Linked DNA regions of Homo sapiens. The protein of the gene in region 2 interacts with the protein of the main gene of each other region in a biochemical or structural test. Each region holds a gene or a part of one and is shown on either strand. Other genes may lie near its edges.

Region 1 (7,808 bases), on a different chromosome or scaffold from region 2:
GCCTGACACACAGTAGCTTCTCCTGAAATGGTTGAGTAAATTAAAGCTTGAAAAGCTGTTTCCAAAACAGAAAATACTTCAGATACATGTAGCAGGTTGAAGAAATTTGAAAAACATGTCTTCACTGTCTTATGTAGATTTTTCAAACCAAAGAAATAATCCTACCAAATTACTCTCAGGCATTGCTCAACTTGACATAAAGCTCACTTCTAAAAGCCTTGTGAGAAAGACTGTCCACAATGGGACTTATTCAATGTTCATGAATACATCTTACCTCCTCTAGGTGATAAGCTTTTACAGACAGGAACAATGTCTTCTACATCTTTGTTCCTATTCCCCTCCTGACCTAAGATGATACCTTGCAAATAATTCCATCAACAAGTACACTTGTCCAAAGCAACCCAGATTCAGACAGTCTCATCATAGTTTTTGGTCATATATTATATTCATAACAAGTTACAGCTGAGCTGAATACTAAGAAACTAAAGGCCAAAAGCACTTTTCGCAATTGCAAAAGATACTACCTAGAGGATTGAAGGGAAAGAATTTTTCTATTTCTGGATAGGCATCATCTGAGGCAGGAACAGAGCTTTTTGCTTTAACAGTCTTCTCAGTCATCTAGAACAGCCAAAGAAAATATGGGTTAGTGACAGTGGAAGTCTTATTAGCTGATTAGTTTTTAAATTTGTCAATTTCATGCTGCCTTCTAAGAAGCCATAATCCTTAGTTTTCATAATTGCACCTAAATATACTTCAAATAATATGATTCAAATGTAATTCGAGTAGCATGACTCAAAAGTTAAAATCTGAAATTTAAGTACCAGCACCTGTCAGCATAAGTGATCAAGAATGCAGTTAATTCAGAGCTAATCAATGCAATTATTCAACCTAACAGAGGAGAAAATGGGCATGAATCACCCAGGATAGTAGCTAATCATCAAAGCCATTTTTGGCTTATAGGAGTGTGATTTTTTCCACAAGTGTTACCTTAAATTATTTGCTTGGTTAATATTAAAAACAAGTTTGTGTTCCTCAAATACACACACTGAGTAAGAGGCAGCAAGACACTGTCAAGGACTTTAGAATAAACACCATGGGCAATCTTCTAGTCTGGAGTTGACAGGTCTACTACAGTCTACTATAGAAGGGTGCTACAATGGAAGCCGGCATGTTCCTGCTTTATCTCACCTCACATATGCATGCCTAGAATTCCCTATGGGGTTCTCACACTTCGGTTCTGTGTCTCATTGTTTTTGCCATGTCTTTGCAATTCCTGTATTTAATATTTTTCTTTAAGTTAATTCACTTTTTAAAGAAGACATCTTTGTCCTAAGTTGCACTATATGTAATTCACTAGTTGTTTCCTAATGCAAATTAAACAAAACAGTTATTCAAATAAAGTGTTAATCCACATGCTAATGTCATCTTTCACAGCAAAGTCCTCTCATCTGGGATACACAGACCTGTAGCTTGTGACTCACACTCACACGAAGATCAACATGCTAGCAAATTGTCACCTAACAAGCTGCTGCTTGCCCTGGAAGGCTAAGAGAATGGCAGCACCTGTGCTATTAAAGCAGCAACAGAACCTCTTAAGGCACCCTCTCTCTCAGTATGTATCTGTAAGTGGATACCACCAACCAGTTTCTCTTAAGGCACCCTCTCTCTCAGTATGTATCTGTAAGTAGACACCACCAACCAGTTTCACGACACTAGTGAAGGACAGGTGAGGCAAAAATATGCATGAGGCAAAAATATGCATTAGCTGCATCTGAGATTTCCAATCTCAAGGTACCAAGAAGTCCACAAGGACAATCTGAGTCTCCTCCACTACTCTGCTTGCTAACCTCTATTTCCCTTCTACTCAGAGGGAAGAAAGCTACGTAGGATGATGCCAATAGTCATTTTAAGAGTCAAAAGTGCTTAAGTGTTTAAACAGTGTCTTTATAGCCAACACTTACCTTTTTGGCAGAAAAGCTTGGCTGTTTTTGTTTGAGGGGTCCCTTGGTCTTTACAGACTTTTCTGTAGCTCTGTTGACAGTTCCCAAAGCCTTTCTAGTAGCTTTAGGTAAGGCTGGTGGGGCATCGAACGTTTTGCCAAAACGTGGTGTTGAAACTTGAGATCTCCCATCTAAGGCTTTGATTGCTGAAGAAAAAGTCTTACCATAAGAATATTCCAGCAGCAAAATACCTGTACAACTTAAATACTGTGTATATAAACTTGACCTCTCACCCCCAAACCCACCCCCCACTTTTGGTAGTGGCATGGCTATGATAGGCCTAATAGCAGAGATTCAGTAACTTCCTTAAATCATCTCATTAAGATATTAAAAATGAAAAAGGACCAATAACAAACGACTCCAATTGCCCAAAAAGTACACTAAATGTCTCGTCCAGCTCCAGGCCACGTCCACAATACCAGTGTATCCGACTGCAGCCTTGTATACTTACAAGGTCCAGACCCCAGCTTCAGCCCATCCTTAGCAACCACACGGGTGCCTGGTTCTCCATTTTCCTTATCAACATAGATCAGAGTAGCCATTCTGGATTATTCTAAGAATGAGAAATACATATTAGATATTGGGGAAGGTGGGAGAAGCAAAGGTATAGCAACATACCAAACTTTCTATCCTAGGAGTGTCCACACAAAAAACAAGAGCTAAACAGCGGAACAGTCACGGGCGTGAGCCAACAAGTACTTAATCCAGCTCTCAAATCTTCCAGCCTGAGTCAGAGGCTCTAAGGTCCCGAGCAGCGCGCGGTTTGGGGCTGGCACTCATCAGACAGTTGCCGTTGGTCCAGTTAGCAGTCCGAGACCACGCTCAAACGGGCTCGGAGCCATCTAAGCCCCGGGCAGTCCCCCAACCCCAGCCCCAGCTTCAGCCCCAGCCGCAGCCGCAGCCCGCCTCCTTCCCCGCCGGAGCCGGCTCAACTAACCACCCGCGACCCTCCCATTCACTCACGCAGGTCTTAACAGCCGCATTCATCTGAGGCCGCGGTGAACGGACGCGGCGCACTCCTGGTTTAAACCACAACTCGCGGCCCAATTGGCTCTTCCGCCCAGGAGGCGGGGCCGTGGGCGTGGTCACCAAGTAGAACCAATGGAAAGGACCTAAGCAGCCAGGGCTCCGCCCCAAAAGCTCTTTCTTGCAAACTTTGTGGCACGTTTTCTGGGAAGAAAAAACTAGGATCGTGTAATATTAAAAAATAAATCGAGAGGCTTTTTTTTTTTGCTCTCCATATTATTAAGCTGCATGGACTGAGGTACTGACTCAATAACAATGGTTTATTGCTTTAAGATATTTTTATTTAGATGACCCTGTAAAAAGGATGGAAAATAAATAGAAATATTGAAGAAATAGGGGAAACAACCAATGTTGGGTCTAAAGAATACTAGCAGAGAAGAATTTAAAATTAAGAAGAAATGTAAGTACAGGTAGATCAAACAGCAGCGTTTGAGTCATTCTCTTATGCTTATGATTAAGAACGAACTGATCGTTCCCTAATCTTAGGACTATCCTCAATACTTCAGGCTAAGACACTGTTTCTATTATACCATCACGAATCTGTCTTAGGAACAAAATTATGATTCTAATGAATACATAATTTAGTCTTCCCTTAAAATTCTATCCTTTGATAGTGATTTATTTTAAACCTCTAACATCTCAATAATATATTAACCAAAGTTGCCTGGAAGGGCTTGGCCAGGGAGCAAGAGAATATCAGAGAGATAATAAAGATATAAAAAAGGAATTCCAATTTCCCAGATATGAAAAGAAATTTTGCTTGAAAAAGTTGACGACCTTTTCCTGTTTCTATAGTAAAATGGAATACATTGAACAACTACAAGATGAAGATATAAATTAAAACATAAGGCTGACCTGTGTCATTCAAACTCCGCTTCCCACAGTTCACCATATATGCATTTTAAGCTGCAGATCAGCTGAGAGAGAGGAGTTGATTCCATATTACTCTTTCACGAAAGGCTTGACACTATACCTGACATAGACATGGTTCTCAATATATGCCAGTTCATCATCTCTTTTTCCCTGGCATTTCAGGACCAATATTGATTGAATGATTCATTCATTCACAAATATTTATTGAATACCTATTAAATGCTGGACATTATACTAGGTTATAAGAAAAGAGCCTAACTTAAGGTGAAGAAAAGAGGAAAGACAGAAAAATATGCATACCTTTATTGTCCCTTCACTGTTCTTTTTCCTTTATCCCCATCCTTTATTTCCTCCTGTATCTCCTAAATTTTACATCATCATATTATATTATCAGCACTCAAAGTGTTAATTTTTAAGACTAAATCTGCACAACACCTATAGCTTCCAAGTGGGGATTCTCTATCTACAGAGGTTTTGAGGTGCAAGGTTTGTCTTAGGATGTCTTCTTTTTTTCACCAACAGAAAGCATTGTTTCTCCTAAGGTCATGCAGCAGCTGTAAACCATAACCACCCTCTCTGAATAACCACTGTTTTCTTACTAATGATGCCCTCAGACCAGCTTTGCTATTCCTATTACTGGAAATACTCAATTGCTAAACCACCCTCACTCATAACAGCACTTAGTCCCTAATCAGTTTCTCCCAATCCTTCTTTACAAACAGCAACCCATCCAGAACCAATCCCGGCTTTCCTAGACCTTCCTCAGAACCCTCCAGAGGGACCTCAAGTCTTAGAAAAGATTCAACTGTCTTGTCCTGCGCTTTCTGATTCCTCTTCGAGATGCGCTCTCCTGGTGGTTTTGGCTAATTAGGCCTTAACACTCCTAAGCAAATTTCAGGAATATTTTTAAGTGGAAAAAAACAAAGCCTGAGTGATTCATAGACTCTATTCACTTTCACGCTAGTCTCTGACACTGTTTCTTCATCTACTGCCCTGTAAAAGCAAAATTAATATTTATGTTCCTAAACTCCAGGTATTGCAAATTCTTAATACGAAAAAAATAGATTCTATTATGTTGGGCTATTTTATTGAGGCAGGAATGGTAGCTACTTTTACTTTTACATTCAAAAAGGATACACGTTATGGGGGGGAGGGGGAGAACAACCAGAATAGAAAGCACAAAGAAAAAAAAAAATCACAAGAAATTCTACCACGAAAATTAGTTTATTTTCCAGTGTTTTATTTCACATGTATACTTTTAAAGAAGGGATGGGATAGCATAGATACTGTTTCTCCAAAATGGAAATTGTCGTATTTTTTTCTAATGATAACATGCCTTATGTTCTCACAGCACCTGGTATTCTTTTCATAGCAACTTTTCACAGCTGCTAAATCTGAATAGTTGTTTCGGTGTCTTTCGCACTCTGATGTAAATCTGAGGGAAGACACTGTTCACCAAATCCCCAGCATGTTACACAGCCTGGCTACTAATTAGTGCCAAGTTTAACTGCTTTTTTTTTTTTTTTAAGCTGATACGTCACCAACTTCCCCATTCATTTCATAGTCCCCTGGTGAGGCTTAAGCTCTTGTCTGTTCTGGTCTTTTTTTTTTTTTTTTAACTTCCTAAAATTCTCCGATTCTAAAAGAAAGCTCCTAAATAGAAGCCAAAAAGTAGCCGCCCAACTTGAAACTCCCCACAAGCCGGGTAAATAGCGCGATACGCAGCAGCTAGAGTTCTCGCGTTTCCCACGGCGCAGGAGCACTGGAGGGCCCCCCTCCGCCCCCGGCCCCGCCAGGAAATTAGTGCGCATGTGCCGGTCATCCGGAAGTTACCGCAGTGGCCGCCGGAATTAGGCGAAAAGCCGGAAGTAAACATTACGAGATTGGCTTGGATTCTGTCGGATGGACTTGGGGCTAGCTGCGGCGGGGCTGGGTAAGAAAATATTGTTAGAACTTGCGGGCGACGGGGAGTTGGGGAACCTGAGAAAATGAGTCGAAGGCTCCTAATTATTGGATATATCTTCACGGGGGTGATGAGCCCTCAGGTGTTGAGGGAGCGAGGACGGGGGACCGAAAAGCCACTGTCCTGAGACCCATTCATGGCACTCGTGCCCTGCCAGGCCAGGCCTGCGTCTTCAGGGAAACAGTCGGGATAACTATGAGAGTGTCGCCTTTGTGGCGGTGCCTCGAAGACCTTGAGCAATCCCCGGACTGCGAGCAGGGAAAGCTGCTTCCAGTACCCAAATTGACAGACTGTATTTCCTCGCCAGAAAAATTTACTTGAGCTTCAGTTTTTCCTGTTAAGTCGAGATGATCCGACTTCAGTGGGGTATCATGCGGGTATAAATGAAAACATCTATGTAAGTAAAGCGCTAAACAGTGTCTTACGTAAGCCCTCAGTAAGTGGGAGCTATTACTGTTTTTAGTTGGAGAAAATAGGTCCCTCCACAGCGACGGAAACTAGTGCGTACAACTTGGTGACTATAATACTTTATTCAGTTTTAGTTTTTAATATTTTAGGCCCAGAAGCCAATGTTCTGTGGACAAGTATAACATACTGGTTTAGAGAACTGACTTTGGAGTCAGAGTTGTGTTTGAAGTCCTTATTTCTTACTACAATGTGTTCTTGGCTGAGGATCTTACCTCTCAGAACCTGTTTCTTCACTGTAAAATGGTGTTCATCAGACCTATCTACTGGGCTTATTGTGAAGATTAGATGAGGTGATACACGGTAGGCTCGAGAAATGGTAGCTGTTTTAATAAAGATTAAATTTACCGTTGTTGTGCTTCTCTTCGCAGTATATTTAGGCCATCAGTTTATATGTTACACAAATATATGTGGAGGTTTTCTATAGGTCAGACATAGAAGAGAACACCTTTGAGAAGCATCGTAGACCCCCAGGCATTGAGCACTTTCCACTGGGAAAGAGCTTGTGTAAAGGCCCAGTGTCTACAGGGAGCACGGTTTGTTAGAGGAACTAGAGGAACTACAAGAAGGTCTATGTAGTTAGTAGAGAAGGAAGCGGGGATAGTTGTAATGGTGAGGCTGGAAGGTAGGCAGGTGCCAGACCATGGTGGACCGTGTAGGTGTGTTAAAAAGATGTCAGTTTTTAGAGTACGAATGATAAAATCCTTTGGAGCGTCATTTTTTTTTTTTTTTTTTTGAGACGTAGTCTAGCTCTGTCGCCCAGGCTGGAGTGCAGTGACGCAATATCAGCTCACTGCAATATCGGCCTCCTGGGTTCAGGTGATTCTCCTGTCTCAGCCTCCCGAGTAGCTAGGATTACAGGTGCACGCCACCACGCCTGGCTGATTTTTTTGTATATGCTTAGTAGCGACGGGGTTTCGCCAGGTTGGCCAGGCTGGTCTCAAACTCCTTACCTCAGGTGATCCGCCCGCCTCGGCCTCCCAAAGTGCTGGGATTACAGGTGTGAACCATCGCACCCAGGTGTCACTATTCGTTATGATAGTTATTAGCCACTTGTGGTTATTGAGACTGGAAATGTGATTAGTTTAAATAAGTGTAAAACCCATATCAACTTTTAAAGACAGAGTTGTTTTTTTTCTAATTCAAATTTGCAATTATAATATGTTGGATATATTACATTAAATAAAATCTTGTAAAAGTAATTTTACCTGTTTATTTTTACTTTTTTAATGTGACTACTGGAAAACATAAAATTACATGTGGGACTAGCATTGTATTTCTCTTAGATGGTGCTGTATTGAATTTTTGGACGGTACTGCATTGGAGGATTTTAAGCTTGGGCAGTAGGACATTGTATTAATCTGTTTTCACATTGCCAATGAAGACATAGCCCAGACCTGCCAATTTACTAAAGAAGTAAGTTTGTTGGACTTAACAGTTCCACGTGGCTGGGGAGGCCTCACAAACATGGTGAAAGGTAC
Region 2 (4,305 bases):
CGTGCTCGGTCCCTTTCCCCCTGCCCCTCTGGCTGCCTCAGGCTCTCCAGCGTTGCTTCCAGGCAAGGCCCCAATGGCCTCCCTCCAGGGTCCTGCCTTGGGTCCCAGGCATGACTCAGCCACTTCCTGTTGCTCAGGCCTGATGTGCTGGGACAGCCACACTCTAGTGCCCTTTGTCTTAACTTCAGTGGGACACAGGAGTGGCTCAGGGAGGCCCCGGGGCTGTGCTGAGAGGTCCCACCAGCAGAGCTCCTGGCCGAGCGACCTTGTTGGACACGTGGCTGGCCATGCAGCCCACAGCGTCACCCCTGAGCCCTTGCATGTGTCCTGCGGCAGGCTGACCAGTGGCGGCGTTTGTGGAGGTCATGGCCTTGGAGCCAGAACTAGGACCTAGCAAGCCACTGACTCCACTTCCATTTTCTGTCCATAAAGAGGGGTTTGTTTCCATTAGAAGCTGCCGGATCCTGGAAGGACTCAGGAGCCCTTGGCCCACAGAGCAGGTGTGTCAGTGCCCCAGTGCTACCAGAACAAAGTACCACAAACCAGCGGGCTTAAAAGAAACATATCATTTTACAGAAGTCAGAAGTCTAAAGTCAGGGTCAGCAGGGCCCTCCGAAGGCTCTAGGGGAGGCTGCTTCCTCCCCTCTTCCAGCTTCTGGGGGCTCCAGGAGCTCCGGGGCCTGTGGGTGCCTCGCTCTGGTCTCTGCCGCGTCGCCCGTGATGTTCCCCCGTGTCTCTGTTCCTATCTCCCTCTTAGAAGAACACTCTCTCTATTCCAGGGTGACGTCATCTTAATTATATCTTTAATGACCGTATTTCCAAATAAGATCTCATCAGAGGCACCGGGAGTTAGGGGTTCATGTGTCATTTTTCGAGGGGCACAATTCAGTGCATGACAATTTGCCCCATGGTGGGCCCCTCCCACGTGCAAGTGACAGCCCCAGTGTCCCCAAAAGTCTTCACCATTTCAGCATCAACTCCAAGTCCAAAATCTCATCTAACTACCATCCACACAAAGTTCCACACACATCTCAGCCTGTAAATGCATCTTAACGAGGTCCAGGTGAGGCTGGAGTGTGCGCCATTCCTCTACGTAAATAGATCTAAACAAGGTACAGGTGAGGCTGGAGTGCGCGCCATTCCTCCAGCTGGGACGCCGTGAAATCAGCCAACAGATGATCTGTTTCAAAAGTTCAGCCGTAAGACAAGCATACACATTCCCACCCCAAAAGGGAAAACTGGGAGGAAAAAGGACAGCGAGTCCAAACCCAGCAGCCGAAATTCCACTTGACTTCCAGGCCTGCGAATCCTCTTTGGCCCCCTGCTCCGTCAGCCTTGGCCTCGGCGGCTCTGCTCTTGGAGCCTGCCTTCCTTTCACTCCAGCCTGGCAGCACTTCTGCGGGTGTAAAATTCTCACACCTTGTTGGCTTATGCAGCTCACCAGTGCCGAAGCCTTCAGACAGGCGGGTCCGCAGCCCTTTCCCGGAGGCCCCACCTGTCCCTGTCTGCTGCTGAGATGGTTAGTTGGATACACAGGTCACACCTCATGTCTAGCAAACCCTGGTCCAGCCACACCCTTGGCCACGTCTCAGAGCTGCCTGGATAGAGTATTTTTCAGATCCCCAAGGGCTGGTGCCTTTTTGCTTAATGGTCCCTGCCTCACTGATTGTTTCCCTCTTGCATTCTGCTATAAGTAGCAAGGAGAAGCCAGGTGGCACCTTCCACACTGCTTGGAAATCTCAGCTTGATGTCCAGGCTCATCAGCTGCAGGTCCCACTTCGCACCCAACAGCAGAGCAGCAGCCAGCCAAGCTCTCTGCTGCCTCCTCCGGTTCCCAGTAGCACGGTCATTTCCATCTGAGACCTCACTGGAAGCACCTGTTGGGTCGGCATTGCTGCCGACATCCAGTCTGTGATGCTGTGTGCATTCTCCAAGACGGCGGCAGCTCTCCTCTTCCAGCCATTTCCAGGCTTGTCTTCATGCCTTTCTACCAGCAGTCGTGCAGGCCTCACCAGTTCTTCCAGCCTCTCCCCATCACCCACTTCCAAAGCTGCTGCCACAGTTCTTGGTGTTAGGTTTTGGCAGCACCCCTCCTGGCCCTTCCTGGTACCAAAATCTGTTCGTTTACTGTGGCTGCTGTAACAAAGTGTCACAAACTGGGTGGCTTAAAAAACAGAAATAGATTGTCTTAGTTTTGGAGGCTGGAAGTCCAAGATGAAAGTACTGGCAGCCCCGTTCCCTCTGAACCCTCTTAGAGACCTCCGTTGCCCCCCAGCTTCTGGTGTTTGCCACAGCCCTTGGTGTTTCTTGGCTTGTGGCCGCGTTGCTCCAGGTGGTCTCTGTCTTCGTGTGGCCCCCTCCCCGCCTGCCTGTGTCTTCCTATCTTTCCTTTTCTTAGAAGGACCCCAGTCAGTTGGGTTAGGATGCACCTCAGTTACATCTGCATCAACCCTGTTTGCAAATATGGCCACATTTCCAAGCACTGGGGGTCAGGAGGCCCCTGTAGCCTTTTCGGGACACACCTTATGATGCTGGCCCCATTGCCCTTCCATGGTGGCTGAGCAGGTGGGGACCCCACCCAGTCCTGTGCTCTCGCTGCTCACCTGCCTGCCAGGGTGGGGTGGGGCAGGTGGCTCTGGGAGCCCCTTTCTCACTGGTACCAGGTGGCAGAGCCCACGGGCCTGAGCGCCCTGCAGCCGAGCTGCCCGTGCTGACCCTGGCCCTCCTTAGGCCATGCGGACCCTCAGTTGGAAGCACACCCTGGGCCTGGTGACCATGGACGTGGAGCTGGCCGACCGCACGCTGTCTGTGGCGGTCACCCCAGTACAGGCGGTGATCTTGCTGTATTTTCAGGACCAAGGTGAGCCCACCAGCCCCTAGCTGGCCTGCCCCGGCCACACGGCCCAGCTGTGGGTGAGGGGCTGTTCCCCAGTGAGGGTGTGGTTTGGGGCAGCTGCGCCAGCAGGCGGCACCCTTCCCTTTCCCACGGGCAAGGCAGGGTGGCCCGGGAGCCCCCCGACCTCTCGGCTGACGGGAGGCAGGGGAGGTGCAGCCCGTGCCCAGGCTGCCCAGCGTCCCGGTGACTCTGCACGCAGCCAGCTGGACCCTGGAGGAACTGAGCAAGGCGGTGAAGATGCCCGTGGCGCTGCTGCGGCGGCGGATGTCCGTGTGGCTGCAGCAGGGTGTGCTGCGTGAGGAGCCCCCCGGCACCTTCTCTGTCATTGAGGAGGAGCGGCCTCAGGACCGGGACAACATGGTGCTCATTGACAGTGACGACGAGAGCGACTCCGGCATGGCCTCCCAGGCCGACCAGAAGGAGGAGGAGCTGCTGGTGCGCGTGCAGGCCCCACGGGGGGCCAGGGGGCGGGGGCGAGGCCTGCAGGTGCCTGACGGGGGCTGGCCTGTGTCCGCAGCTCTTCTGGACGTACATCCAGGCCATGCTGACCAACCTGGAGAGCCTCTCACTGGATCGTATCTACAACATGCTCCGCATGTTTGTGGTGACTGGGCCTGCACTGGCCGAGATTGACCTGCAGGAGCTGCAGGGCTACCTGCAGAAGAAGGTGCGGGACCAGCAGCTCGTCTACTCGGCCGGCGTCTACCGCCTGCCCAAGAACTGCAGCTGACACATCGCCCGCCCGCCCGCCCGCCCGCCAGGCGCTGCCCTGCAGGTGCTCTCGTCCTCCCGTGCCAGCCCCCGCCCGCCCGTGTCCCAGAATGCACTGCTGAGGAGCATGCCCACCCCCACCCCCGCAGTGTGCAGATTAAAGCAAGTCAGATCATCCTTTTCTGTCCTGGTGGCTTTGTGGGGCCCCCCAGGATCCTCCTCTAGCCTGGGCCTCTCTCTCAGCCTGGCAGGGCCTGCTCCTCAGCAGCAGGTGAGGGGCCACCTAGGCCTACACATCTGCACTGGGAATGTAGCCTCCTGAGAGAATCCCGGGCCGCCCCCGACCCAGGGTGCTCAGGGAGCGGCACGTGAAGGTCCACGTCACGCCCGGGCCACGGCTCAGGCAGCCACGTCCTAGGGCTTAGTGCTTGCTACCCGCCAGACCTCCAGCTCCATTCCTGCGCCTCTGGCCTTTAGAAGGAGCCCTGGGGTCACCCTCTGCTCAGCCTGTGCCCACCTCCACACGCTCGGCCAGGAGGTCTCGGGCGAGGTTGGGACGTTGTGCGGGTTCGGTTGGAATTGCTGAGGCTGGCGAATGACCTCTAGGCCAACACGCCTCGTCTCTGGCAGTGAGGCTCTGCCGAAGGCTGTGCCCTGGTGGCCAGAGGGACTGGGCACTTGTCCCCTGCTCCACACTC

What was found. Proteins that work in one complex are often made in the same cells at the same time.
Region 1: the proteins of ANAPC2 (region 2) and PTTG1 form a complex in vitro, tested with the Homo sapiens proteins (2 studies listed by BioGRID, with this or other methods).

The regions. Positions count from the first base shown.
Region 1 is NC_000005.10:160,417,047-160,424,854, reverse strand, and holds the start of PTTG1 (securin), read right to left. Parts: upstream 3,001-7,808; 5' UTR 2,964-3,000; intron 2,946-2,963; exon of another isoform or gene 2,554-2,945; 5' UTR 2,543-2,553; coding exon 2,452-2,542; intron 2,147-2,451; coding exon 1,962-2,146; intron 619-1,961; coding exon 525-618; intron 1-524. Other genes in the region: pre-mRNA-splicing factor SLU7, read left to right, coding at 5,802-5,832. UniProt on the Homo sapiens protein: Regulatory protein, which plays a central role in chromosome stability, in the p53/TP53 pathway, and DNA repair. Probably acts by blocking the action of key proteins.
Region 2 is NC_000009.12:137,174,263-137,178,567, reverse strand, and holds the end of ANAPC2 (anaphase-promoting complex subunit 2), read left to right. Parts: intron 1-451; coding exon of another isoform or gene 452-500; intron 501-786; exon of another isoform or gene 787-2,730; coding exon 2,731-2,860; exon of another isoform or gene 2,861-3,052; coding exon of another isoform or gene 3,053-3,095; coding exon 3,096-3,331; exon of another isoform or gene 3,332-3,413; coding exon 3,414-3,626; 3' UTR 3,627-3,784; downstream 3,785-4,305. UniProt on the Homo sapiens protein: Together with the RING-H2 protein ANAPC11, constitutes the catalytic component of the anaphase promoting complex/cyclosome (APC/C), a cell cycle-regulated E3 ubiquitin ligase that controls progression through mitosis and the G1 phase of the cell cycle.